4 linked regions of the Homo sapiens genome follow. The protein of the gene in region 1 interacts with the protein of each later gene in a pairwise test. Each region holds a gene or a part of one and is shown on either strand. Other genes may lie near its edges.

What was found.
Region 2: the proteins of MS4A3 (region 1) and ADIPOQ interact in binary tests that used the Homo sapiens proteins (3 or more experiments, as listed by UniProt).
Region 3: the proteins of MS4A3 (region 1) and TMBIM6 interact in binary tests that used the Homo sapiens proteins (3 or more experiments, as listed by UniProt).
Region 4: the proteins of MS4A3 (region 1) and ERG28 interact in binary tests that used the Homo sapiens proteins (3 or more experiments, as listed by UniProt).

Annotation. Positions count from the first base shown.
Region 1 is NC_000011.10:60,066,641-60,071,626, forward strand, and holds the end of MS4A3 (membrane-spanning 4-domains subfamily A member 3), read left to right. Parts: intron 1-310; coding exon 311-472; intron 473-2,933; coding exon 2,934-3,035; intron 3,036-3,563; coding exon 3,564-3,593; 3' UTR 3,594-4,475; downstream 4,476-4,986. UniProt on the Homo sapiens protein: Hematopoietic modulator for the G1-S cell cycle transition. Modulates the level of phosphorylation of cyclin-dependent kinase 2 (CDK2) through its direct binding to cyclin-dependent kinase inhibitor 3 (CDKN3/KAP).
Region 2 is NC_000003.12:186,852,684-186,858,972, reverse strand, and holds the end of ADIPOQ (adiponectin precursor), read right to left. Parts: exon of another isoform or gene 5,923-6,289; 5' UTR 5,915-5,922; coding exon 5,701-5,914; intron 5,196-5,700; exon of another isoform or gene 5,101-5,195; intron 4,841-5,100; exon of another isoform or gene 4,790-4,840; coding exon 4,269-4,789; 3' UTR 510-4,268; downstream 1-509. UniProt on the Homo sapiens protein: Important adipokine involved in the control of fat metabolism and insulin sensitivity, with direct anti-diabetic, anti-atherogenic and anti-inflammatory activities.
Region 3 is NC_000012.12:49,758,536-49,765,448, forward strand, and holds the end of TMBIM6 (bax inhibitor 1), read left to right. Parts: intron 1-147; coding exon 148-227; intron 228-685; coding exon 686-786; intron 787-3,168; coding exon 3,169-3,244; intron 3,245-4,337; coding exon 4,338-4,361; 3' UTR 4,362-6,399; downstream 6,400-6,913. UniProt on the Homo sapiens protein: Endoplasmic reticulum (ER)-resident protein that confers cellular protection as an anti-apoptotic protein by limiting multiple stress-inducing pathways surrounding the endoplasmic reticulum and mitochondria.
Region 4 is NC_000014.9:75,650,877-75,657,911, forward strand, and holds part of ERG28 (ergosterol biosynthetic protein 28 homolog), read right to left. Parts: intron 6,658-7,035; 5' UTR 6,627-6,657; coding exon 6,494-6,626; intron 4,101-6,493; coding exon 4,010-4,100; intron 1,014-4,009; coding exon 895-1,013; intron 759-894; coding exon 679-758; 3' UTR 1-678.

The sequences.
Region 1 (4,986 bases):
CACTCCTCTCTTTGGATTCCCAGATTCTCCTTATCCCATTCTGTTAGCCCCTAGTACTTAATCACTTTCAAAAATATTATGTAATTTACCTATAGTATGTTTACTTTTTTCTTTGTTTTTATTGCTAGAATATAAGCTCCATGGAGGGTGGGGGACAGAAATCTTTCTTTGGTCATTGATGTTAGCCTCGCATCTAGGATATCAGTGGGTGTGTAAACAATATTCAATCAATGTTTGTTTCAATGAATTGTTGCCAAAGGAATGAAGTACGTGCTGCATATATTAATTGAAAATTCTTATTCTTTTTTAGATACAGAACAGTTTTGGAATGAACATTGCCAGTGCTACAATTGCACTAGTGGGGACTGCTTTTCTCTCACTAAATATAGCAGTTAATATCCAGTCATTAAGGAGTTGTCACTCTTCATCAGAGTCACCGGACCTATGCAATTACATGGGCTCCATATCAAATGTATGTTTCTGAAAAATATGTATAAGTATAAAATATTTCAAACAATCCAGGATGTACAGAAAAATAATATATCAGGTACCAATGTGCCATAATTTGAATCTTTTTTTTTTTTTTTTTTGAGACGGAGTCTCGCTCTGTCGCCCAGGCTGGAGTACAGTGGAGTGATCTCGGCTCACTGCAAGCTCCGCCCTCCTGGGTTCACAGCATTCTCCTGCCTCAGCCTCCCGAGTAGCTGGGACTACAGGCGGCCACCACCATGCCCAGCTAATTTTTTGTATTTTTTTAGTAGAGACGGGGTTTTACCGTGTTAACCAGGATGGTCTTGATCTCCTGACCTCGTGACCCGCCCGCCTCGGCCTCCCAAAGTGCTGGGATAAGGGGCGTGAGCCACCGCGCCCATCCCATAATTTGAATCTTGGGTCTGTCGCCTATTTGCTTTATAATGAAGGGCAAATTAGATAATCCCTTGAATTTTCTCATTTTTGAAATGAGGATAACAATAGTACCCGTCTCATAGGATTTATGTGAGTATTTAAAAAGTTAACATATGATAAGCAATTAAAACAAGGCTTAGCATATCATGATACACAATTATTATTACCACAACTACTACTATTACACTCCCCAGAGAGATTTTTTTTTAAGTTTCATTTCACCGGGCGCGGTGGCTCACGCCTGTAATCCCAGAACTTTGGGAGGCCGAGGCAGGCGGATCACGAGGTCGAGAGATCGAGACCACCCTGGCCAACATGGTGAAACCCCGTCTCTACTAAAAATACAAAAAAAAAAATTAGCCGGGCATGGTGGCAGGCGCCTGTAATCCCAGCTACTTGGGAGGCTGAGGCAGGAGAATCACTTGAACCCGGGAGGCGGAGGTTGCGGTGAGCCGAGATTGCGCCATTGCACTCCAGCCTGGGCAAAAAGAGTGAAACTGTCTCAAAAAATAAAAAAATAAAAAAATAAAGTTTCATTTCATATCTCCTTGCTTAATAAAACAAACTTGAGAGATTTACAACTTTCTCTGCAATCTGGAATGTTCAAATAATGACTTGAAGTTTTGAAGGACTGCGCTTTAGAATGAAATTAGCATGGTGTTTTCAAAGGAAAGCTCTTTAATAACCTTACCTTTTTTTTTTTTTTTTTTTGAGACGGAGTCTTGCTCTGTCACCCAGGCTGGAGTGCAGTGGCGCCATCTCGGCTCACTGCAAGCTCCGCCTCCTGGGTTCACGCCATTCTCCTGCCTCAGCCTCCCGAGTAGCTGGGACTACAGGCGCCCGCCACCACGCCCGGCTAATTGTTTTTTTTTTTTTTTTGTATTTTTAGTAGAGACGGGGTTTCACTGTGTTAGCCAGGATGGTCTCGATCTCCTGACCTCGTGATCCGCCCGCCTCTGCCTCCCAAAGTGCTGGGATTACAGGCATGAGCCACCGCGCCCAGCCAACCTTACCAATTTTTTAAAAATTTGTGTTCAGGTACTCTACCTCTTCTGAACTCTACTTAGAAATTAATATTTTCCTTTGGAATTATCCATTTCATCCCAGTGATCTATGAACTGTTAATTACAGACTCACTCCTAAGCTTCCTGTTTTCTTTTTATTATTATTATTATACTTGAAGTTCTAGGGTACACGTGCACAACGTTCAGGTTTGTTACATATGTATACATGTGTCGTGTTTGTTTGCTGCATCTATTAACATGTCATTTACATTAGGTATTTCTGTTAATGCTATCCCTCCCCCAGCCCCCCACCCCACGACAGGCCCTGGTGTGTGATGTTCCCCGCCTTGCGTCCAAGTGTTCTCATTGTTCAGTTCCCACCTATGGGTGAGACACTACTTATGGAAGTTTGTGTTCTCATTTTCTTTATTACATTTTTAATGATCTAAATTTATATTTGTCGGAGCCTGATTTTTCTGTGAATTTGGAGGTATTTTTCCTCCAGGGATATATTGTATTGGTTGCTTCTAGGTGCCTCAGTAATAATAGTAGAATCATTAGCCCAACAATTTTATTTTTTGTTTATATTAGCTCAGTGTTTTAGTTTCTAGGGATAATGTAAATGCCTAAACCCCTATGAAGTGCTAATGAAATTGTGGAAGGGCCATTTTTGTTCATTTTTCTAAACTGCCTACTCCTCTCCTTAGTTTACTACTATTCAGATTGGAAGATGTTAGTGATAATGTCAGAATTTTGTTTCTACAGCTTCTTCCCCCTGTAGCTACTTCACATGCGTTGACATAGAAATGTGACACATCTTTCTCATTAGAGAAAATGTTTTCATGCTTTTAGATTGAGATACTATCTCTTCTACAGTGTTATATGTGTCTCTGTCTTTAATTTATGGTTCACTTTGTTCCACTTTACGGGAGGGAGATGTTGTAGTCTGGTTTCCTGCTGACATTTTTTTTTTTACCTCTGGATGTTGCCACTGGGTTTGATATAAGGCATCATATCCCCTAGGGCATGGTGTCTCTACTGCTGATTCTCACCTTGCTGGAATTATGCGTAACCATCTCTACCATAGCCATGTGGTGCAATGCAAACTGCTGTAATTCAAGAGAGGTGAGATTTTTCAAATGATTAATCATTCACATGATCTCAAAGCCTCCCTGTAGGGTTTGAAGTTGTTTCTGATGCTTAGAAATAAACCTTTATGTGGTAATGATTTGTGGAGTTCCTGGAATTAGAGATTGTATGAATGTTAGAGATGGAATGAAGGGTAGAAAAGAATTTGGATGTGAACATGCAAGAGGAAATACTGTACTTGATATATAAGAGCATACTTTCTTATACAGCTGTAATTAAGTTTTATTATTTTCTTATAACTTGTAACTTTCTAATTGTATGACCTAGGAAAAATTAATAATTCTTTCTAAATTTTAGATATATTAACTGTAAAATGAAAATAATATTTTCATTCTCTTCTAATGTTTGTTGTGAGTACTGTGTATATAATCTTTATGGCATTTGGCACAGTAAACATCAATGAATGGATTTTATTGTTGATGATTATGATGATAACAGGAAGGGATGGGAGGAGAAGGAGATAATGATCCTGTTCTTGGACATTAATGTTGTTTTATTTTCTAGGAAATTTCCTCACCTCCCAATTCTGTGTAATCAAGAATACCTCCTTAATTCTGAGAGCATGAATATTTGACCTTAAATCTCCAGTGACTCAGAGCTTCACCCACAAACTCAGGAGAACATAAGCCTGCTCGTAAAGCTCAATCCTTCTATCATGGCACCAATCACAAGAACCTTGGACGTTTGACTGACTCTATCCTTTCTCTCCTAACTATAAATCCTATTTGTGTGTCGTGGGTATGGAAGGACAGATATATTTCTTTAGGCATTCTTGGATATCTGTAACTTCTATGATCATTACTCCAAAGTTGTTTCCAGAAATTGGTTCTATTTCTTCTTATCCACCTACTCCATTGCTTTATGAGGTTTAAGGAAGGAAGGCGGTATAATCCCTATTCAATATATTTTTTCTAAAATCCAACTTCTGACCGCCCAGTAGGAAGAAAAATGAGACATTTTTTCCATTACAGAGAAATGCTTCTTGACTTTAACATCAGCATTATAAAAAGTGTCAAATAAAAAATTACCATCATTATCATTAAAATAAATTTTCACTGTATTTGAGATGGGAGGGTTAAGGCTCAGGGATTTTATTTCAGTGAACTGCTGGAACTCACACATGCCCTGATATGTAAATGATGATTTATGTTGGCGAGTCTGAGAGCAAGCCCAAATGTGTTCTTCAAAGGACAATGGGAAACTGTAAAGTAGAGAACTAAAGAATAAGGCCTTTAGAATCTGACACATCTGGGTTCAAATTCTGAAACTGTCACTTATTACCTGTATGAACATGGGCAAATTATCTAATCTCTCTGATCTATTTTTCCTCATCTGTAAAATAGGTGTAATAATAACAACTACTTTGTCGGTTGCTCTGAGGGTTAAATGAAAATAAAAAGAAAATGTGAAACAGCACCACAGGTACTTGACAATGATGTTGCTGTTGTTGTTGGTCTTGCTGTTGCTGGTGAAAGCTAAGGTGGGATTGTGGTCAGATGTGCTGGAGAGATACAGTGGAAAACTTACTTACACTTCCATTGTGGCTCCTCGTATAACCTCCAACAACTCCAATAGCCATCTTTTCGAGGTGGCAATGTGGCGTGAAAACTTCCCTCAGTTCCTCGTTTATAAATCTGCTAAAGCACTTATATTTCTTATTCATAAATATCCAAGAAAAATAAAATTTATGAATAAGAAATATAAGCACTTATTGTGTCCATAAATTTATACCAATAATTTATTCTTAGTTACGTGTATATCGTATGTGCAAAGGTTCTTTTCTAACACTTGTATCCTACTTATATAATAATTATTTCTTTATTTTTTAATCCATTCTGCAGCGGGATAATTAAGGAACCAGAGAGACTGAGGGGTTGAGGAGGAATTATTTAATTATTTAGGTGCACCGACCCAGTCGGATTAACAT
Region 2 (6,289 bases), on another chromosome or scaffold:
GACTTGCTTTAAAATAAATGCTCAATAAAGTTTTTCAGGTTGAGGAGAAATTACACCAGAGAGAAACACAGAACATTAGAAATTAATAAAGAACAAAGGAAATGATGAATATCTGAATATGTATTTTTCTCCTCTTAAATTCTTTAAAATATATATATGACTGACGAATGCAAAAATCATAACATTGCCTATAATGTTTCAGTGTATATAGATGTAATATATATGACAACTACAACATAAAAGAAAGTGGATAGAGGTACTAATATGATTATAAGCCTTCTACGGTTTACTGCAAGTGGCAAAATATTAACTTTATGCACACTGTGAAAAGTTAAGTACATTGTAATCCCTCAAGCAACCACTAAAAAATACCACAAAGAGATATAGGCAAATACCCAATAAATAAATTAAGATAAAATATTATGAAATATTTAAACAATCCAAAAGAATTCTGGAAAGAGAATAAAACAGAAGTGGTGAACAGCAAACAAATAAAACAGTCATCCATCTTAAATTCAACAATTTTATTAAATATAAATTGTCTAAACACCAATTAAAAGACAGATATTTTTAGACTGGATAAAAATTATACCCAACTACATGCAGTCTGTAAGAAACACATTTTAAATACAATAATATAGATATATTTAAAGTAACATGATGGAAAAAGATATACCACAAAAACACTAATCAAAAGAAAGTTGACCAGGTGTGATGGCTCATGCCTGTAATCCCAGCACTTTGGGAGGCCGAGGCGGGTGGATCACAAAGTCAGGAGTTTGAAACCAACCTGACGAATGTGGTGAAACCCCGTCTCTACGAAAAATACAAAAATTAGCTGGGCGCAGTGGCATGAGCCTGTAGTTCCAGCTACTTGGGAGGCTGAGGCAGGAGAATTGCTCATGGTAGAGGTAGCAGTGAGCCAAGATCACACCACTGAACTCCAGCCAGGGCCACAGAACGAGAGTCTGTCAAAAAAAGAGAGAGAGAGAGAGAGAGAAAGAAAAGGAGGAAGGAAGGAAGGAAAGAGAGAGAGAGAGAAAGAAAGGAAGGAAGAAAGAAAGGAAGGAAGAAAGAAAAGGAAGTTGAGTGCGTATGTTATTTTTAGACAAAGTAGACTTCAGAACACAGAAAATTATCACAGATAAAGAAGGACATTACATAATGATAAGAGAGTAAATGCACCAATAAGACATAATACTAAACATGTATATATCTAATAATAGAGCGCTAAAATATATGAAGCAAAAGCTGACAGAACTAAAGAGAATTGGACAAATCCACAATTGTACTTCAAAGCATCACAGGACCATTAATCCTGAAATCTTGACCTCAGTTTCTCTCAGGCCTCTTTTGGCCTCAGTTGACTCTCTCTGTGCCTCTGGTTCCACAAAGGAATAACCCTGCCCCAGAGAGTTTAGGGTAACTGTGAAAGCGTGTTCTGTAAGGAGCCCACCCCAACCAGATGTGAGACTGTGAGCATAGCCAGACTTTAGCTACTTGTTGAAATTTTAGAGAAAATCAATAGGAATTTTCCAGCTATGTCTCTCTGGGAAACTCATGAAAGCTCAAACACAGCATTAAGAGTTTGTTGTGGACAGGTATTATTTTGCATCTATCATCCACTCTCCTATTTCTGATAACAGTGTCCCAATTTTGCTTTAGGGAAAATACCTCTACATACCCCTAACTTAAGCTGCAATTAAGTCAATATGAATATTTCATCCTCCTGACTCAGTGATTGGTCAGAAACAGGCACACAACTCAGCCAGAGCAATGAGATGCAAGGTTACACTTGCTGGGGCATCTGGGAAAGAGAGCTTCCTCTCTCCTCTTTGGGCATCACCAGAAAACATGATGTCCATTTAGCCAGATGGTGTGGCTTGGGGATACGAGAGCTGGGCAGGCCACAGTCTTTTTGATATCGGGAGGGAAACCCTAGAACTATACTGTGTAGCACCTGAGGGTAAAGCCTACACTGCGGAAGGCAGAACAGAAGGACATACAGAAAAGGGTCTTGATTGTTTTGAGCTTTGGTTCAAACCTTATCTAAAGACAGAACAACTCTGGTAATTTCTATTATGCAAAGGAATAAATGTTTCCATTTTTCCTTTATTTTTCTTGCTTACAGTAGTTTGCATAATATTTTGGGTTTTCTGTTGTGAATGACATTCACAACACAGAGTTCTGACTAACACAAGGCTTACTCTCACCTCTTCATCCCTCTCTAAACCTCATATCTATCTTTCTCAAAAAATAACAACAAAAATGGAGGCGGGCAGATCACAAGGTCAGGAGTTCGAGACCAGCCTGGCCAATATGGTGAAACCCTGTCTTTACTAAAAATACAAAAATTAGCCTGGCATGGTGGTAGGCACCTGTGGTCCCAGCTACTCGGGAGGCTGAGGCAGAAGAATCGCTTGAACCTGGGAGGCAAAGGTTGCAGTAAGCCGAGATCATGCCACTGCACTCTAGCCTGGCAACAGAGGGAAACTCCATCTTAAAAACAACAACAACAACAAAAAGACAAAGCTTTATATGTGGAAAAAATAATACCTTAATGATTAGCAATACACATATAAGAGAGAATTGTTCAGAATTTAAAACTGTAAGCAAAAAGATAGTTTTTTAAATTTATATATTGATAGAGAATGCTATTTACTCTGTTTTTGCTAAAATCTTTGAAGAACATCACTGGAGTTATTGTCTCCTGAGAGAATGTTTACCACCATCAACTACCTCAACCTGTAATTCTTAAAGAACAATAATAAATTCAGGAGGCCCAGTCTTCCCTGACCCTGTTGGTACTCAAGGAGACAATGGCTTCAGAATTCCTCCATGGGTTTTGCATTTCAGGCTCAAGCTACCTTCTTGATGAAAAATTCTGGACGTGTTCTGAAAATCACAGTCATCCCTAACTTCAGTGGAAAAGATTCATATTGTCCAGCTGAACAAGGATTGATACTTAAAACCAGGGATTTCCTAAAATGAAAATGTTTCTGTGGATAAAACTGATTACATGCAGAGACTGGAATGGAGTTAATTCTGGGTAGATATGGGATTCAAGAGATTGGTCTTCATGAGGCATTTATCAAGGATCTGCAAGGGATTTAGAGGTGACGGAAGCACAGTCCTTCCTGGGCAGTTGCCTCTAGCCTGGTGGGAGGTGTTCCTCACACCCAGGACTCTCATCCATGGCAAAATAAAAAGTGAGATATCGACTGGGCATGGTGGCTCATGCCTGTAATCCCAGCACTTTGGGAGGTCGAGGCGGGTGGATCACCTAGGCCAGGAGTTCGAGACCAGCCTGGCCAACATGACGAAACCCCATTTCTACTAAAAATACAAAAATTAGCCATGTGTGGTGGAATGCACCTGAAGTCTCAGCTACTCGGGAGGCTGAGGCACAATAATTGCTTGGACCCAGGAGAAGGAGGCTGCAGTGAGCCGAGGTCGTGTCACTGTACTCCAGCCTGGGTGACAGAGTGAGACTCCATCTCAAAAAAAAAAAAAGTGGATATCACATCAGAGAAGCTCCTGGCCAGGTGGCCTTGAGGAACAGGGATGAGTTCGGCACTTAGAGATGGAGTTGGCTTTCCCCGTTGGAGGGAAAGGCATGAGAAGGGACATAGGTAAGAGGAAGTAGAGTAGTGCAGGGGCCATTGAGTAGTAGTCCTTCCAAGACAGGACGTCATCATAGAACCACTTTCTCTGAGGAAGCTCTGCTTGGGGGAGGTTTTAATTCATGAGGAAGGCAAATTCAATGGCTCTCAGGTGAGGTGGGAAACAGACACCTACCAACACTCCAAAGAGAACATGTACCTCTATAAAAGGGCACAGTCTAGTGAACAAAGTCCACAGCTCTGGGTTTGATTTCTAGCACTGTCACTTAATACTGTGTGACCTTAGACATTCACTTAACTCTCTCAGCCTCAGGATACAATCTGTAAAAACAGGAGAATGCTTGTTCCCTGTGCCTTATAGGATTGATATGAGCATCAGGAGAGACAGTGGGCACAAAATAGCACTGTCAACTACTTCTTTCTAGTCAGTTATCTGGTCATGTTTGTGAAGCTCCCCAGGACTGGGAACATAGCATATGATTTTTTTAAAGTTACTCGATGAATGAATGAATAAATGAATGAGTAAATGAATGAATAATATCTAAAGGCCTCCAACTAAATAATAATCAACTTCCTAACCGTACTGAAAGCCTTTAATTGACTTTGGGGCTGTTTGGCCTGGAGGAGGCTCTGAGTTAGTGGTGATCAGTTGGTGTCATGGTAGAGAAGAAAGCCTGTGAAGGTGGAGTCATTGTCATTATCAGCATAGAGTCCATTACGCTCTCCTTCCCCATACACCTGGAGCCAGACTTGGTCGCCCACCTCCAGATGCAGGAGCACAGAGCCGGAGGCCTGGTCCACATTATTTTCCTGGTACTGATCATAGGTGAAGAGCATAGCCTTGTCCTTCTTGAAGAGGCTGACCTTCACATCCTTCATATAGACTGTGATGTGGTAGGCAAAGTAGTACAGCCCAGGAATGTTGCAGTGGAATTTACCAGTGGAGCCATCATAGTGGTTTTGCTGATTGTAGAAGATCTTGGTAAAGCGAATGGGCATGTTGGGGATAGTAACGTAAGTCTCCAATCCCACACTGAATGCTGAGCGGTATACATAGGCACCTTCTCCAGGTTCTCCTTTCCTGCCTTGGATTCCCGGAAAGCCTCGGGGACCTTCAGCCCCGGGTACTCCGGTTTCACCGATGTCTCCCTTAGGACCAATAAGACCTAAGGAATGAGAAGACCTCAGTGACTACAAAGAACAGAACTCCTGCCTAGGTTGGTTACAGCCTAAATTACCATCCCTGTGGCTCCCACTCACAACCTTCTTGACTTATAGATCAAGAAACCAATAAGAGCTCCCAAAAGGAGAGAGGTGTTACCTCCTCCTTCTATATCTCCCACAGACATGGAGGCTCCCATAATTTCAACTCTATCTTTATCTCCTATAGGTCTCTATCATAGACCCTCCACCCTGCCAGCCCTTTATGTGCTGGCACCATCAACCCTGGTTTTGCAATTCTACCCCCTCCATCTAGGATGTCTCTCCTCCTCTATTCTGCCTACCCATCATTCAAGGCCTAGCTGAAGCTCTGCCTCCTCCTTGAAGCCTTCATTCTTCATCAGGTCCACGGTGAGTATATTTTCTCTATGCTCCATACTTTGAATACTTGTTCACATTCAGTTTGACATTTTTAGAGTAGACTTTCTTGTAGTAACCACCAACAGAGCCTTGCACATTAGACATCTTACCTAGATCAAGAGTTCCCCAAAGGCAGGACTGAGCCTTTCAGGGGGTGTGCAGTAAATGTGGTTGAATGCCACTGGGTGAAATGGAAGTTAAGCAGACAGAAAGAGGAATCAGAATATGAATGTACTGGGAATAGGGATGAGGGTGAAGATGGGAAAGGGGATGGAAAAGGAGCTGCAGATGCAGCAAAGCCAAAGTCTTGGTTATAGAGGCACCATCTACACTCATCCTTGGAAGACCAACCCCAAATCACTTCAGGTTGCTTATGGTTAACATAAAAAAGCTTTGCTTTCTCCCTGTGTCTAGGCCTTAGTTAATAATGAATGCCTTCATATAGTTTATATCAGTGTAGGAGGTCTGTGATGAAAGAGGCCAGAAACATTCTTACCTGGATCTCCTTTCTCACCCTTCTCACCAGGGGTGCCATCTCTGCCATCACGGCCTGGGGCCCCATTATGGCCCGGATGCCCTGGGATGCCCGCCATCCAACCTGTGCAGGCCCCCTTGGGCAGGGGAAGCAGGACTCCGGGCCCTTGAGTCGTGGTTTCCTGGTCATGACCGGGCAGAGCTAATAGCAGTAGAACAGCTCCCAGCAACAGCATCCTGAGCCCTGGAATCCACATGTGCACTGTCAGCCATGGAGAGACAGACCCCACACACACACCCAGTTGGGACCTACAAAGGACTCCGTCCATCTCAGCAGAGTCTACTTCTAGGAGCTGCTTTCTAAGTATTCAACTTTTCCAGGAAGACTTTTCTGAATATTGCAGCCCACCTTGATCTCTTTCTGCCCTGAAATCTGTAATACTTAGCATTATTCCCTGTGTGTAGTCTCCTTTCCTCACCAAGATTATGAATTCAGTGATTGCACAGATGACACTCCTCTAATTTTCCCATGTCTGAGCACAGGACCAAGCACAGGGAAAGCTCCAAGAGTCGACTTGCCAAGAATCCATCCTTGGGTTTCCCAAGTACGA
Region 3 (6,913 bases), on another chromosome or scaffold:
CTAGTACTCCTTCCTTACCCCTAACTCCTTTGCGACTATTGAGTTGAGATTAACCTTCATTCTGGGGGAAGTTAAGGAATGGCTTTAATGGGATTGCTTTACTTTGCCTTGGCTTCTCTCAAGACAGCTTTTTGCTGTGTCTTATAGGTATCTTGATGTCAGCCCTGAGCTTGTTGCTTTTGTCTTCCCTGGGGAATGTTTTCTTTGGATCCATTTGGCTTTTCCAGGTAAGACTTAGCCTGGAACTTTCCAGCAGCCATTTGCCTCACACTTCTTTCTTTCCTTTTTTTTTTTTTTTTGCACTTCTTTCTGTACTACTTTGGGCAGTGCTCTCTAAGCCTTCCCATTATCCTTCATAGGATGGAGCCTTCTGCCACAAGTGAAAACAGGCTGCACAAGGTTGGGCATTGCTAAGAGAAAATGGTTTGCTCAGACACCATTTGTGTAAGGCCAGTCTGGCAGTGGCTGATTGTTAAAATGATTGAAACTCTTCCAGTGACCAGTGCAGTATTGTGCCTAGGGAAGTAAAGTGGTCTTCACCCTAGGCTGCAGTTCTCGTGAATGGTAATGTTCATAGGGTTCACATTTGATGTACTTTCAAGTGACTATGAGCCAGAAAGTATGGCTGGTTTTTTTTTCTCTGCAACTTCTGCTGTATAGTAACTTCATCTCTTACATTTGTTAGGCAAACCTGTATGTGGGACTGGTGGTCATGTGTGGCTTCGTCCTTTTTGATACTCAACTCATTATTGAAAAGGCCGAACATGGAGATCAAGATTATATCTGGTGAGTGTGGGAACTAGTCTTTAACAAGCATGAAGGTTGAGGCATACCGTTCAGCAGCTGAACTTAGGTTGGCATTGGCTGAACATAGGTGGCCAAGCTTTGGGAGTGTATGTGGTAGGAAACCCACGGTTTTGGAACTGTGTACCATAATCTTCCTCAATTCCTGAAAGATTTCAGATTTTTTAAAAATCTGGGCTAATAGGCCAGGTGTGGTGGCTCACACCTATAATCCTAGCACTTTGGGAGGCTGAGGCCACTGGATCGCTTGAGCTCAGAAGTTTGAGACCAGCCTGGGCAACATGGCGAAATCCCATCTCTACTAAAAATATAAAAAAATTAGCTGGGCATGGTGGCACATGTATATAATCCCAGCTACTCAGGAGGCTAAGGTATAAGAATCATTTGAACCTAGGAGGTGGAGGTTGAAGTGAGCCAAGATTGCACCACTGCACTCCAGCCTGGCAACAGAGCGAGACCCTGTCTCAAAAAAAAAAAAAAAAAAGTGTGGGGGCCGGGCACGGTGGCTCACGCCTGTAATCCCAGCACTTTGGGAGGTCGGGGCAGGCGGATCACGAGGTCAGGAGATCGAAACCATCCTGGCTAACACGGTGAAACCCTGTCTCTACTAAAAATACAAAAAATTAGTCGGGCGTGGTGGCGGGCACCTGTAGTCCCAGCTACTCAGGAGGCGGAGGCAGGAGAATGGTGTGAACCGGGGAGGCGGAGCTTGCAGTGAGCGGAGATTGCACCACTGCACTCCAGCCTGGACGACAGAGCGAGACTCCTTCTCAAAAAAAAAAAAAAAAAAAGTGTTGGGGGGTGGCTATATATTTACATATCCATAGTGGCTACCTCCAAGCAGAAGTGAGGGAAAGAGATCTTTCTCCTTTTCCTATTTATACTTCTGTATTTTTTAAACAATGAGTAGAAGATACACTCTTTTTTTAGAGACAGGGTCTCGCTCTGTTGCCTAGGCAGTAGTGTGGTGCCATGAACACAGCTCGCTGCAGCCTGAATTTACTGTGCTCAAGCAGTACTCCTGCCTCAGCCTCTTGAGTAGCTGGGACAACAGGCACGTGCGACCATGCCAGGCTAATTTATTTTTTGTAGAGATGGGGTCTTACCATATGCCCAGATTGGTCTCAAGCAGTCCTCTTGCCTTGGTTTCCCAAAGTGTTGGGATTACAGGCTTAAGCCACCATGCCCAGCCACTTTTTTTTTTTTTTTTTTTTTTTGAGACAGTTTTGCTTTGTCACCCAGGCTGGAGTGCGGTGGCAACATCTCAGCTCACTGCAACCTCCGCCTCCTGGGTTCAAGCGATTCTTGTGCCTCAGCCTCCCTAGTAGCTGGGATTACAGGCACTCTCCACCACGTCCAGCTAATTTCTGTAATTTTAGTAGAACGAGGTTTTGCCACGTTGCCCCGTGAGGACATGGTGTCGAACTCTTGGCCTCAAGCAATCTGCCTTCCTCAGCCTCCCAAAGTGGTGGGATTACAGACATGGGCCACCATGCCCAGCTCACTTTTTTTTTTTTGAGACGGAGTTTCGCTCTTGTTGCCCAGGCTGGAGTGCAACGGTGTGATCTTGGCTCACCGCAGCCTCCGTCTCCCGGCTTCAGGTGTTTCTCCTGCCTTAACATCCTGAGTAGCTGGGATTACAGGCATGCACCACCATGCCCGGCTAATTTTGTATTTTTAGTAGAGATGGGGTTTCTCCATGTTGGTCAGGCTGGTCTCAAACTCCTGACTCAGGTGATGCCCGCCTCAGCCTTCCAAAGTGCTGGGATTACAGGTGTGAGCCACTGTGCTCGGCACTTTTTTTTTAATGTAGTGATTCTCTCAGTCTCATGACTAATTAGTGGTAGTTAAGGGTTCAGACTTGGACCTCTGCAGAGTTCAGAGCGCTTGAGACAGGGCTTGCTCTGTCACCCAAGCTGCAGTAGGAGAGTGGCACTGTCATGGCTTACTGTAGACTCAAGCTCCCTGGGCTCAGGTGTTCCTCCCATCTCAGCCTCCTCAGTAGCTGGGATTACAGGCACATGCCACAATGCCCTGCTAATTTTTGTAGAGACGGGATTTTGCTATGTTACCCAGGTTGGTCTCGAACTCCTGGGCTCAAGCAGTCCACCTGCCTCAGCCTCCCAAAATGTTGGGATTACAGGCATGAGCCACTGTGCCTGGCCCAGTCTCTTTTCTCTATGCTGCATGACTTCGATGAGTCTAAAGGATCTCAGACACCAGAGTTTTACTTCCTTAGTTGGGGGTAAAGTGTGGGAGAAGCTGGCTCGTGGGGGTAGGGGTGGGGTTTATATTCTGCATCTTTGTGGGCTTGTGGATAAAAAAGTCTGAAGTACAGATCCTAATCTGGTTCTTGCCTTTCAGGCACTGCATTGATCTCTTCTTAGATTTCATTACTGTCTTCAGAAAACTCATGATGATCCTGGCCATGAATGAAAAGGTTAGTTAGCCTACAACCCAAAGATGAGACAATAATGGCTCCTGAGCTTGGCATGTGTGTATACTTCAGATTTGAAAACTTGCTCACACACTGTGTTAGGTCCAGGGTAACTGTAAGGCAGGCCACTGAGTAAGAGGTAAGCCAGAAGTCTTCAGTTGTTAGAAAAAAAGCAGCAAGTGAAAAAAAAATTTTTTTAACTAATTCCTGCGTTTAGTATGAAAGGGAAAAAAGCTTCAGTGGCAGTAAACACAACCTGCTACATGAATAATTTAAAGGCTATATAGTTGTGACTCAGAGAAAGGTATTGTGGAGGACGTTGTAAATTTCAGAAGTAGACTAATTTTATCCATTTGTTAATTTTTTTTTCCAAGGAAGCATTCTATATAGGGCTAATGAGTATCTAACGTAGTTGAGTCAAGCAGTGGGGGAAACAAATGAAATGAGCTTTTCTTTATAGACCTTATGGAGCTTAGAGATAGCATAGTGGTAGCGGGAGTAGTTGACCAGATAGGATTGCTGGCTCTGTCTGGGCTATGCCATGGTTGGACTGAGCACTAGGCAGATGTACAAGTTTCAGAACAAGCAACTGAATTTTCATTCCTTAATACATTGGGCTTCCATCCAAGATTGAATGAAGAATTCTGCTGGACCAAATTATTTCTGAATGTCAGTTTATGCCAGAGTCATGCTCACTTTGCAGGGTGGAGCACTTCTCGCGCCTAATGGTTGGTTGGTGGTCTTGGCCTCTAGTTTCACTCTTTGAGGATAGAGTGCCATCTGCAGCCTTCACTGTTGGGATCTGAGCTGTAGTGGCTGTGAATAGCCTAGAGTGGTCAGGCAGCCCACCTCGGCACTCCTGGGGTGGGGGTGGGGACAGCTGCTTAACCTTTATTCTTGGTCGGTCTGTCGGCAACTTTGGGAACCACCAGTAGGATGTGGTTAAGATTCAGTTCTTGCTGAGCTAAGGAAGCATTTCTCATTTCTTTTTAATTGTCTGGCTCACTTCTAGTCCCTAACTAAATGCTCACTCAAGAGTTTTAGCTTGAATGTCAAATGTCAAAAAATTAATTGGGTGATTTTTCTCCATTTCTAGGATAAGAAGAAAGAGAAGAAATGAAGTGACCATCCAGCCTTTCCCAATTAGACTTCCTCTCCTTCCACCCCTCATTTCCTTTTTGCACACATTACAGGTGGTGTGTTCTGTGATAATGAAAAGCATCAGAAAAGCTTTTGTACTTTGTGGTTTCCTCTATTTTGAATTTTTTGATCAAAAAACTGATTAGCAGAATATAGTTTGGAGTTTGGCTTCATCTTCCTGGGGTTCCCCTCACTCCCTTTTTTGTCAACCCCATCTGTAGCCTCTTCCTCTACTCAGGCAGTCGACCCGCCACGATGAGAAGTGGGACCAGCAGAGGGCGCCAACTTCAGGAGTCCGCTTTCCCACCAGGCTTCATTCACCCAGTGGACCTGAACTGTTTGGTAGAGCCACCCGGCCCTTCCTTCCTCATTGTTGTTTGGTATGCGCACAGTTCCTGTGGGACTGGGCCGTGAGTTTTCCATTGGAAAGAAGTTCAGTGGTCCCATTGTTAACTCAGCCTCAAATCTCAACTGTCAGGCCCTACAAAGAAAATGGAGAGCCTCTTCTGGTGGATGCTTTGCTCCCTCTGAGCTGCCCATGCTGGTCTGGCAAACACACCTTTCTGCTTTGCCTTCACAAAAGTAATGTGTTCCCTTTCCCACCCCTTGCCTGACCCTCAGGGAGTCAGCCTGCTTCCATCCATGGGTGGGAAGACTTCAGCACAAAGGAAAGACTAATTCTTGTCAGGCATTTTTGAAAAGGCTGATTATGTGTATCAAGGTACAGCATCGTAGGGTTCCCCTAAACTTGCCCTGTTTTTGTTTTTTTAGTTTGTTATCCCCTTACTGAGCGGCCTCTACTAGGTGGCTGTGATTAAATGTCCCAAGCAAGGATAGGGAAGGGGAATGGTTGAGCCTCTGGAGATCATTGTAACCAATCCTGCCAGACCTGTTTGGGGCAGTGGGGAGCAAACCTAGATAAGGACCTGTTTGGGGCAGCAGGGAGCAAAATCTCCTTTAACAACCAAGCAGTTCCTCATTCACATCAACAGAGCGAGGCTGTGATAACTTAGGAGGCAGCAATCCTAATAGTCCTTCAGTGCATTTTAGTCTGTCTCCAACTGGACACCAGTAGGTAGTGTCAAGCCAGAGATTCGGGGCAGTAGATAAATGTTCATTTTACTGATGCACTTTAGTTTTTGGTCTGTTACCTGTTTTCCAGAAATTTGTGGCCTTTTAGGCGGGAGTTAGGCGACCAAACCAGTGAGAGCCCCAATCCCTGCAGTTTTGTGGCTTCAAGTGTGGGTGGACAGTCCTAATGGGGATCTCCAGCTCCTTCCTGTGGGCTGCCACAGACAGCTACCCCCAGAAGGGTCAATGTTGGGAGTGGTTGTGGCTCTGAGCTGCTCTACAGAGCTTCAGTGTGAGAGGATCGAGCCATTGAAAGCTCATTACCAGTAGGACATAATTTTTGGCTCTCCCTATTCACAACCAGTGCACAGTTTGACACAGTGGCCTCAGGTTCACAGTGCACCATGTCACTGTGCTATCCTACGAAATCATTTGTTTCTAAGTTGTGTTTATTCCTGGAGTGACATGCCACCCCGAATGGCTCACTTTCACTGAGGATGCTGTCCTCTGATTTAGCTGCTGCCTCCAGCCTCTGGCTTGAGAACTTACTAAAGGCACTTCCTTCCTGTTAAACCCCTGTTAACTCTCCATAAATTTGGTGATTCTCTGCTAGGCCTAAGATTTTGAGTTAACATCTCTTGAAGCCAAACTCCACCTTCTGTGCTTTTTGCTTGGGATAATGGAGTTTTTCTTTAGAAACAGTGCCAAGAATGACAAGATATTAAAAAAAAAAAAGAAAGAAAAAAAAAAAAACACCTACTTTTAAAGAAAATACCTAACAGATTTTTAATATAGTTATCTCTACCACTTTCTTTTCTAGTTTCTTGATTTTCAGCTCAGGCTGCATTCTAACTCATACTGTGAAGACAAAGGTGTTTTTGATTCAGAAATATATGAAATCTGCATAGTCTTAATTTGTAAAAAATAAAGAAAATTCCTTAACCTTTCCTGGTGTTTGTGTTAAATTCAAGGGTACAGCTGGTCATGGAGCTTGTGATACTGCCAGGGTTTGCTACTGGGGGCTGGGAGTGGGACACGATTGAGTTCGTGTCATAAGTATGAACAGAGACAAAGACCTCCCACTCTGTAGCCCCAGCATGCCACAAATGTTGAGAATTTTCTCTGTCAAATATGTAAGCCAGTTTTTTTTCCAGTCCTCTCCACCCCCTGCCACCTTTGCTATATGTTGTTTGTGGTGATATGTGCAGTTGGTTCAGATGTGCAGCCAAGCTTTGGAGTTTGAGGATGCATAATGGAAAAAAGGCAAATGATACCCACTCATTCTGCAAGTATTTTTGTTCACCCACTGCTGCCCGGCTGTATTCTAAGTGCATTAGTTAATAAAGATGTAAAAGTTGGCCAGGCATGGTGGCTTATGCCTGTAATCCCAGCACTTTGGGAGGCCAAGGTGGGCAGATCTCGAGGTCAGGAGTTCAAGACCAGTCTGGCCAACATGGTGAA
Region 4 (7,035 bases), on another chromosome or scaffold:
AAAGTACAAGAACTGATCAGAGCAGAGGGTTTTTCTATTTATTACAAAAGTTGTTACACAAATACAGCTGACCAGAAGGTCTAAAAACAGCCCAGACTCTTCCAACCCTCATGCATCTGTAGATAGAAGGAGAGCTGTGGTCTTGCTCACACACAGGGGAGCCCTTCTTAGAAGAACTGCCTGTCCCTTGGAAGGTTCAGAGTCTTGGGTCCAGCAGCAGAGAGGAGCCCAACCTGCGTGGACAACCCCTTGAGGCAGCCCTTGGTCACAGCTGCTCTGGGTGGGCAGCAGGTTTAAGTTTCATAGTTCACATGTTCCCACCACACAAGTCAAATCAAGGCATGAAAATAAAAGGGAAAAAGGGGAAGGCTGGAAAAGGGAGCCTGGAAGAGGTTGCAGGTAGGGGAAGGAGACACAGTGGGCTTCCGAGAAGCTGGCAATTTCTTGACTTGGATGGAGTTACGTAGTATTCACTTTAAAATTATTCTTTAAATTGTACGTACATGTTATATACTTTTCAGTATGCATATCTTTAAATTTTAAAAATTAAAAAAAGAGGCTAAAAGTGAATAAAAGGGCAGATGATGGAATAGAAAAGAAATTAAAGAGGAGAGACGACGAAGGAAGAAGATGGCCAAGGTGGAAAACGAGAAAGTCCTGGAGGTGATAATGCTGGCCTCAGTTTCTCTTCTTCTGTCTGGATACTGGTTCTACTTCTAGATACCGGAGCCCGACCAGCATACCCAGGATGGAGAAACCTTAAATACAGAGGAAAGACTAGTGACTAACATACATACGGTACCTTTCTTCTCTCTCTCTCCTGTGTCCACCCTCTGTACTAGCTCTAGAGCTGGCACAGCTCCTGTAGGAGGTCTAGGGTGGTTGGATGCTTACTTGCCACCATCAGGGGTGCCAGGACGCCAATCGTGGGAGCTGCAGTTCCATAGACAAACAACTCAGAGAGGAAATGCCCCAGGGCAAGGAGGAAGGTCCAGAGTGTGATGTGATAGAGCCTATAAGGAAGCAGACAGAAATGGGAACCAAAGTTACTGTTTGTTCAGAACAGAGGAAAAGTATCAGACTTCATACAGACAAATAAGAACCCAGGATGTCATTAAGACTTAAAAGAAAGGACACTTGTTCCTGAGGAAGAGCTGGTTATTTGATCACAACGATATTCTCATCTAGGGCAAAACTGAAGGTTTCAACTGCTAAACTGAGAGGAGAATGGTTCAGGCATCCAGAATGAACGTCCAGGTCTCAGCAAAGTGGTGAACTCAGCTATAGCAAAGCAGAGCCTGAATGATGACAATCGCAGGCAGTGTAGACAACTTTGGATCCAGCACGCTTACATATTCTATTTATCCAAATTGGTTGACTCTGCAGTCTAATCCCACCTGGCAGGCATCTGGCCATGCACTTGTCGGTGTTTATAAGATGGATGCCACAGAACGAACGGCCTCATGGGGAGTAAGGAGCAAGGACACCTCTGGGGCTTTTAGATGCTCTTGCAATATACGTTGGTTACTTTGTGCCTTAGCCTAGAAAAGTAGTCACATTGAGGACATGGTGACAACCTCATGGGAAAAGAACTTATCTTTCAGCTTTGACTATAAGGTAGAGAAGAGACAGGCTACTAGGTGACTGACCACTTTGTTTGCTGATATCTTTTTAGTATAAAATTTTTTAAAATTATGAAATACTTCAAACATACAAAAAAATTACTGAACACTATAATGAACACCAATGCAACCAACACCCAGCTCCCTCAGATCTTAACATCTTGACATTTTGTTTCAGACTCTTCTAATAAAAACTTACAGAGAAGAGTTAAATCATCCTGTGTATACTTATCCTGCTCTAAGTCTGTTCTCCCTCATCCCCACAAGTAACTGGTATCTTACATTTGATTTGTATCTCTCCTGTGCATATTTTTACACCTTTTTTTTTTTTTTTTTTTTTTTTGAGACAGACTCTTGCTCTGTCTCTCAGGCTGGAGTGCAGTGGCACAATCTTGGCTCACTGCAACCTCCGCCTCTTGGGTCAAGTGATTCTCCTGCCTCAGCCTCCTGGAGTAGCTGGGACTACAGGTGCACACCACCACGCCCAGCTAATTTTTGTATTTTTAGTAGAGATGGGGTTTCGCCATGTTGGCCAAGCTGGTCTCAAACTCCTGATCTCAAGTGATCTGCCCACCTTGGCCTCCCAAAGTGCTGGGATTACAGGCAGAAGCCACCCGCGCCTGGCCCATTGTGGAAACAATATGTATGTGTGTTGACTTTCAGTCTCTAGTTAGGGAGGGAATAGGATCAGAATGCACATCAGAAGTGCATCGATCAAAGTCCTAGGCTAGAAAGGTCTAGAAACAGGAGTCAGCGTTTGCAGCTGTCCTGTGTGGGGAGAGGTGAAAGTAAATGGTAACTGAGGTAAAGATAAGTCTGGGTCAGGCCGGGCACAGTGGCTGAAGCCTGTAATCCCAGCACCTTGGAGGCCAAGGTGGGTGGATCACGAGGTCAGGAGTTCGAGACCAGCCTGGCCAACATGGTGAGAACCTGTCTCTACTAAAAATACAAAAATTAGAGGGGCATGGTGGTGCGCGCCTGTAATCCCAGCTACTGGGGAGGCTGAGGCAGGAGAATGGCTTAAACCCAGGAGGCGGAGGTGGAGGTTGCAGGGAGCTGAGATTGTGCCACTGTACTCCAGCTTGGGTGACAGAGCAAGACTGTCTCAGAAAAAAAAAAAAAAAGAGATAAGTCTGGGTTGTCTTCGCTCACTTCAAAAGCACAACAATCAAAAGATATATCCCTCATACTCATCAGCAATTCTTCATTGTGGTACAGGTCTTTAAAATGATTGTTCAATCCTCCCTTCCTCTTAGTCACCCTGAGAGGTAGAACAGATATCTATTCTCATTTTATGGATGAAGAGGCCAAGGTGCAAGGAAGGTGAATAATGGACTTGCTACTGCAAAGCTAGTTACCAACAGAACTGGGCCCAGAACTAAACACACTGCTTCCAAAAGTATGTGTCATTCTAGGACAAGTAAACTGCAGGTTCAAGTTTGAAAAAAAATTAAAAAAAAAAATAAGGTTGAAGAGATCAAACGGCTAATAGCCCTGCTTCAAATCTCACTTGAGTCAGTCTTTCTTTAAACTAACTGTATCTCTAATATTTAGATGTGCAAAATCAGGAATGAAAATCATGACCTCCAGGGCTGCTAAGAAAAGACTTAATCAAGATCACGTAGATAAAAGCTCAGCATAATAAGAGGGGCTCAATAAATATTATCGCCTCCTGTTTTCCCCAGATGCCAAGAGCCTGGATAAGACAGAAAAACATTTTAATGTGAAGTTGGCATTCAGATAGCCTCCCTCGGTGACCTGAACAAACTGTTTCCACCTAGAGTGTGATGATGACTCCCGCTGGGAAGAAAGCTCGAGCCCCCTCTAGTGGCCAGCACTGGTTATGGCTTCTGATTGCCTGCAATTGTTCCACCCTGGTCTGTTTGAGTACCCAAGACAGGTAGATTCAGGAGCCCTAGCTTCTCTTTCACCCTCACCTGCTGATGCTGCATACACATACAACAGTTTACTTGTGGGTTCCTCTTTTTTCATGGATTGTGATTTCTGTTCATTCCTGCTTCTTAAGGAGGAATGTGAGAAAGGTATGTGTGGGTGGCTACTCTAAAAAGAGCATACCACTCTACTTCTTTAGTAGAAGAAGGGCTGATTCTTTCATAAAGAAGTGGAGGGGCATGATGCAGGCCACTGGATAATGGCCTGCCAGTTTGCTATGTCAGTTCCAAAGAATTTTCAGACTTTAATGAAGACCTGTTAGGTCTACTATGTTTTCTAGGCTTGGAGGGAATGTAACCTGTGAGTTTTTTATTATTCACATTCTAAGCTAATGCATTAAAATGATTAACAGTTCCCATTACTCAAGGTAACAGGTATGCCTCGCATCTGATTTCCAACAAAAGGATGCTAAAGCTCTTCCTTCCCTTACATACGTCTTGTTGTGAATGTCAATGGCACAGAGGCAGCGAATCACTGATGAGAGCAGCGTCCAGATCCCAAAGGTCCGAGCTTGGAGGCCATTCACTGTGTAGCAGAAAAAAGCAAGAGTGTTCAGAAGGGGAGACTTGAGGTTCCTTCCAAACTCCTCCTATTTCACTGGTGGTTCATGGGAGATAGGGAGCTGGACCTGACCTCTCTGTGGCTGGGCAGGATGGAGGTCCTAGTGGCAACATGGGAACTAGAAGGAATAGAAGGAATTCCAGAATGAGAACTTCTCAGATTCTCTTCAAATGTCTACAGTTGGAAGGGAAGTTCCAAGAGTGGAAACCCACAAAGAGCCCAGTTAGGCAAATAACTCCTAGATATAGTAATTTACCCCTTTTGTCCTGGAAGCCTAGAGGGTCTGGATCAGGACAGGTTTTGGGGAACGTTGTAGAGACTGATCTGGAAATGCAAGATGCCCAGGAGGCCAGCAGACTTTCAAGGCTGATCCAGGAGAGAACTCAGAGATACTGGGGACCAATTTAGATGCCCATATATGGTCTTTAAGATATGTGAGTGCCTGGGTCTCTTCCTGCATCCAGATCTATGCTGTTGGATGAACCAATACCAGGTTGGTTTCCTGTGTGCATGGCAGTGGGACAAAGCACTGTTTCTTTGGTGTTTGCTGGGGGCATCCTGCTGTTGGTAGCTTTGTTCTGACATTGCTGTATTAAATATCTTGTCCTGAAAGTATAGGTCATATTCCACCATAACAGTGGTTCTTGACTTTGGGCATTTATTACAATCAACTGAGGTAGTTTTATAAAATTACAAGGCCTGGGTACCAGACCAACTATATCGTATTCTCTGGAGGAGGGCCCCAGGCATAAGTATTTTCTAGAAACTCCCTGTTTGGGTAATTTAAATGCAAAACCATTGAGCTAAGGCATCCAGTGGCTCGGGGATGCCAAAACAGTGAAAGCAAAGATACTTCCTTTGCTGGTCTACTACCTGCTGAGTAAGATAAATTTTAAGGGACAAAATTGACAACTGAAAAGTCTACTAATGTTTACTTGGGCTTTAAGGATTTTTCCAGCCTTTGGAAAATCAGACAGCTCTCCCAAATTCACAATACTGAAGACCATTAGATGGTAGTGAGAAAAAATTCCATATGCCAACCAAATATCTAGCATTAGCCCTGGATAGCTATATTCTTTATAAACCAATTTGATAATGAGAAGACTAAGGACGTTTCTCTAGTTAAGAGTACTCAACCAGCCCTAACCAGATTAGGTATGAGGTGAAATTCTGTGGGACACTTTAGAGCACTGCTACTTTCAGAAGAGTACCATGAAGGCCCCTAGATCACAAGGGAGATGGCAGCCTCAGCTTCCGTGCTGGCTGAACACACACACACACACACACACACACACACACACACACACACACATAAAGTTCTGCTCAGCTATATGCCTTTAAGTCACATGACCTCTGGACCTCTTTGCCTCAACTTTAAACTCAAAGGGCTAGACCAGATGACCTCTAAAAATGTGTGAATCTATATAGGGTTCCATGACCACCTGAGGGCAGCATTTGAAGGTGAAAAGATGGAATTATTCTGCTCACTTTCCCAGGTTCTTTACTCTTATTATATTTGAGCTTTCTTAAAATGAGCCTTAGCCTACTTAATTTCATTTTATACTCAGACACTGCAGAAAAACGAGCTAGGTCAGAGCCTGAATCTGGGTTAGCTATAAATGTGACACAGAATTGTCATCTGCTGTGAAACAGTGCTGCAGCTTAAACTACCCCACACATCAGCGTGATGAAGTGGAAGCTGAAATGGACACTCTCAGTAGAGAGGCTCAGGAAGCCAGGAAAGGCTGCCATGGGCCTTCTTAAGTTTCATTTTGGGAGACCAACTTGAAGGGATTTTAAATACCTTCTCAGGGACTATGTCACGGAAGACCTTGAATTAATAACTCTCCATCTGTAACATGGAATATGAGTCATGTAAGCCCCAGAATCATGTAAACCTGATTCTGAAGAGGGCTTTGAGATATATGTAAAGCTTCTTTATGGCTTTCTTGTCAGGCATCACAGAGTCACCAAGTAAGTCTATTTCCTCACTTGCCCTTATAATGCTTTTTTTTTTTTTTTTTTAAATACATGAATTGCCCAGGGCAGTGTAAAATCAATGAAAAGTATTCAGAGAAGCTTGGGGGAAAAAGGGTCAAGTGCTCACCACAAAGTCTATTACTCCAGTAGCTGCCAAAGGCTAGCTAAGGCAGCATCAGAATCATCTGGGAAGTGTTTTAGCAACTGGATTCCTGAGCTCCACCCAGGTTCAATAAATAGGTTTGGTGAGGGAAATGGGTACCTGTGTTTGTTGACGTTTCCTAGGTTACTCTGATGTACAGCCTGGTTTGGGAACCACAGCATAGGGCCAGTCCTATAAGTCCTATAAAGGATGCAGAAATTCTTTGATTTCTTACCAAGGTTTGGCTTGCCAGTGTAGAGCTTTTCATAGAGAAAAGTGTGGTCTCGGAAGCTCTGCAGCGTGTTCCCCATGGCTATGATGGACACCATAACCAGCCAACTTCTTAACACATTCAGGAAACGGCTCATGACTCCCCTCAAACGTGGGAGGGCTTTTTGCCTTGGAAACAAAGGCAGAGGACATGAGACAATGAGGGCCAGTCTATGTTAACCATAAGCAGGAAGGGAGGAAGAATGAAGCAGGCCAAAAAAAGAAATTCAGTCACACTAATAGTGGTGAATGAACAGTATACTTTGCAATAAGTGGCACAGTACTTATCCTTGTCTAAGCAATTTCTCCAAAATATTACCCTAAATCAGAACTCCTTTTTCTGGGTTGGAATCAGTCCTCTATCTTTACTTCTATACCTTCATGTTTTCATGCCATTCCTTCGTAATGCAAATAGCTCAAAGGCGATTATAACTATACTCACAGACACCTGCCTGGCTATTGATGACGGATTCTTCCAAGTGTATGGAACTTTATAAATTTGAGTAG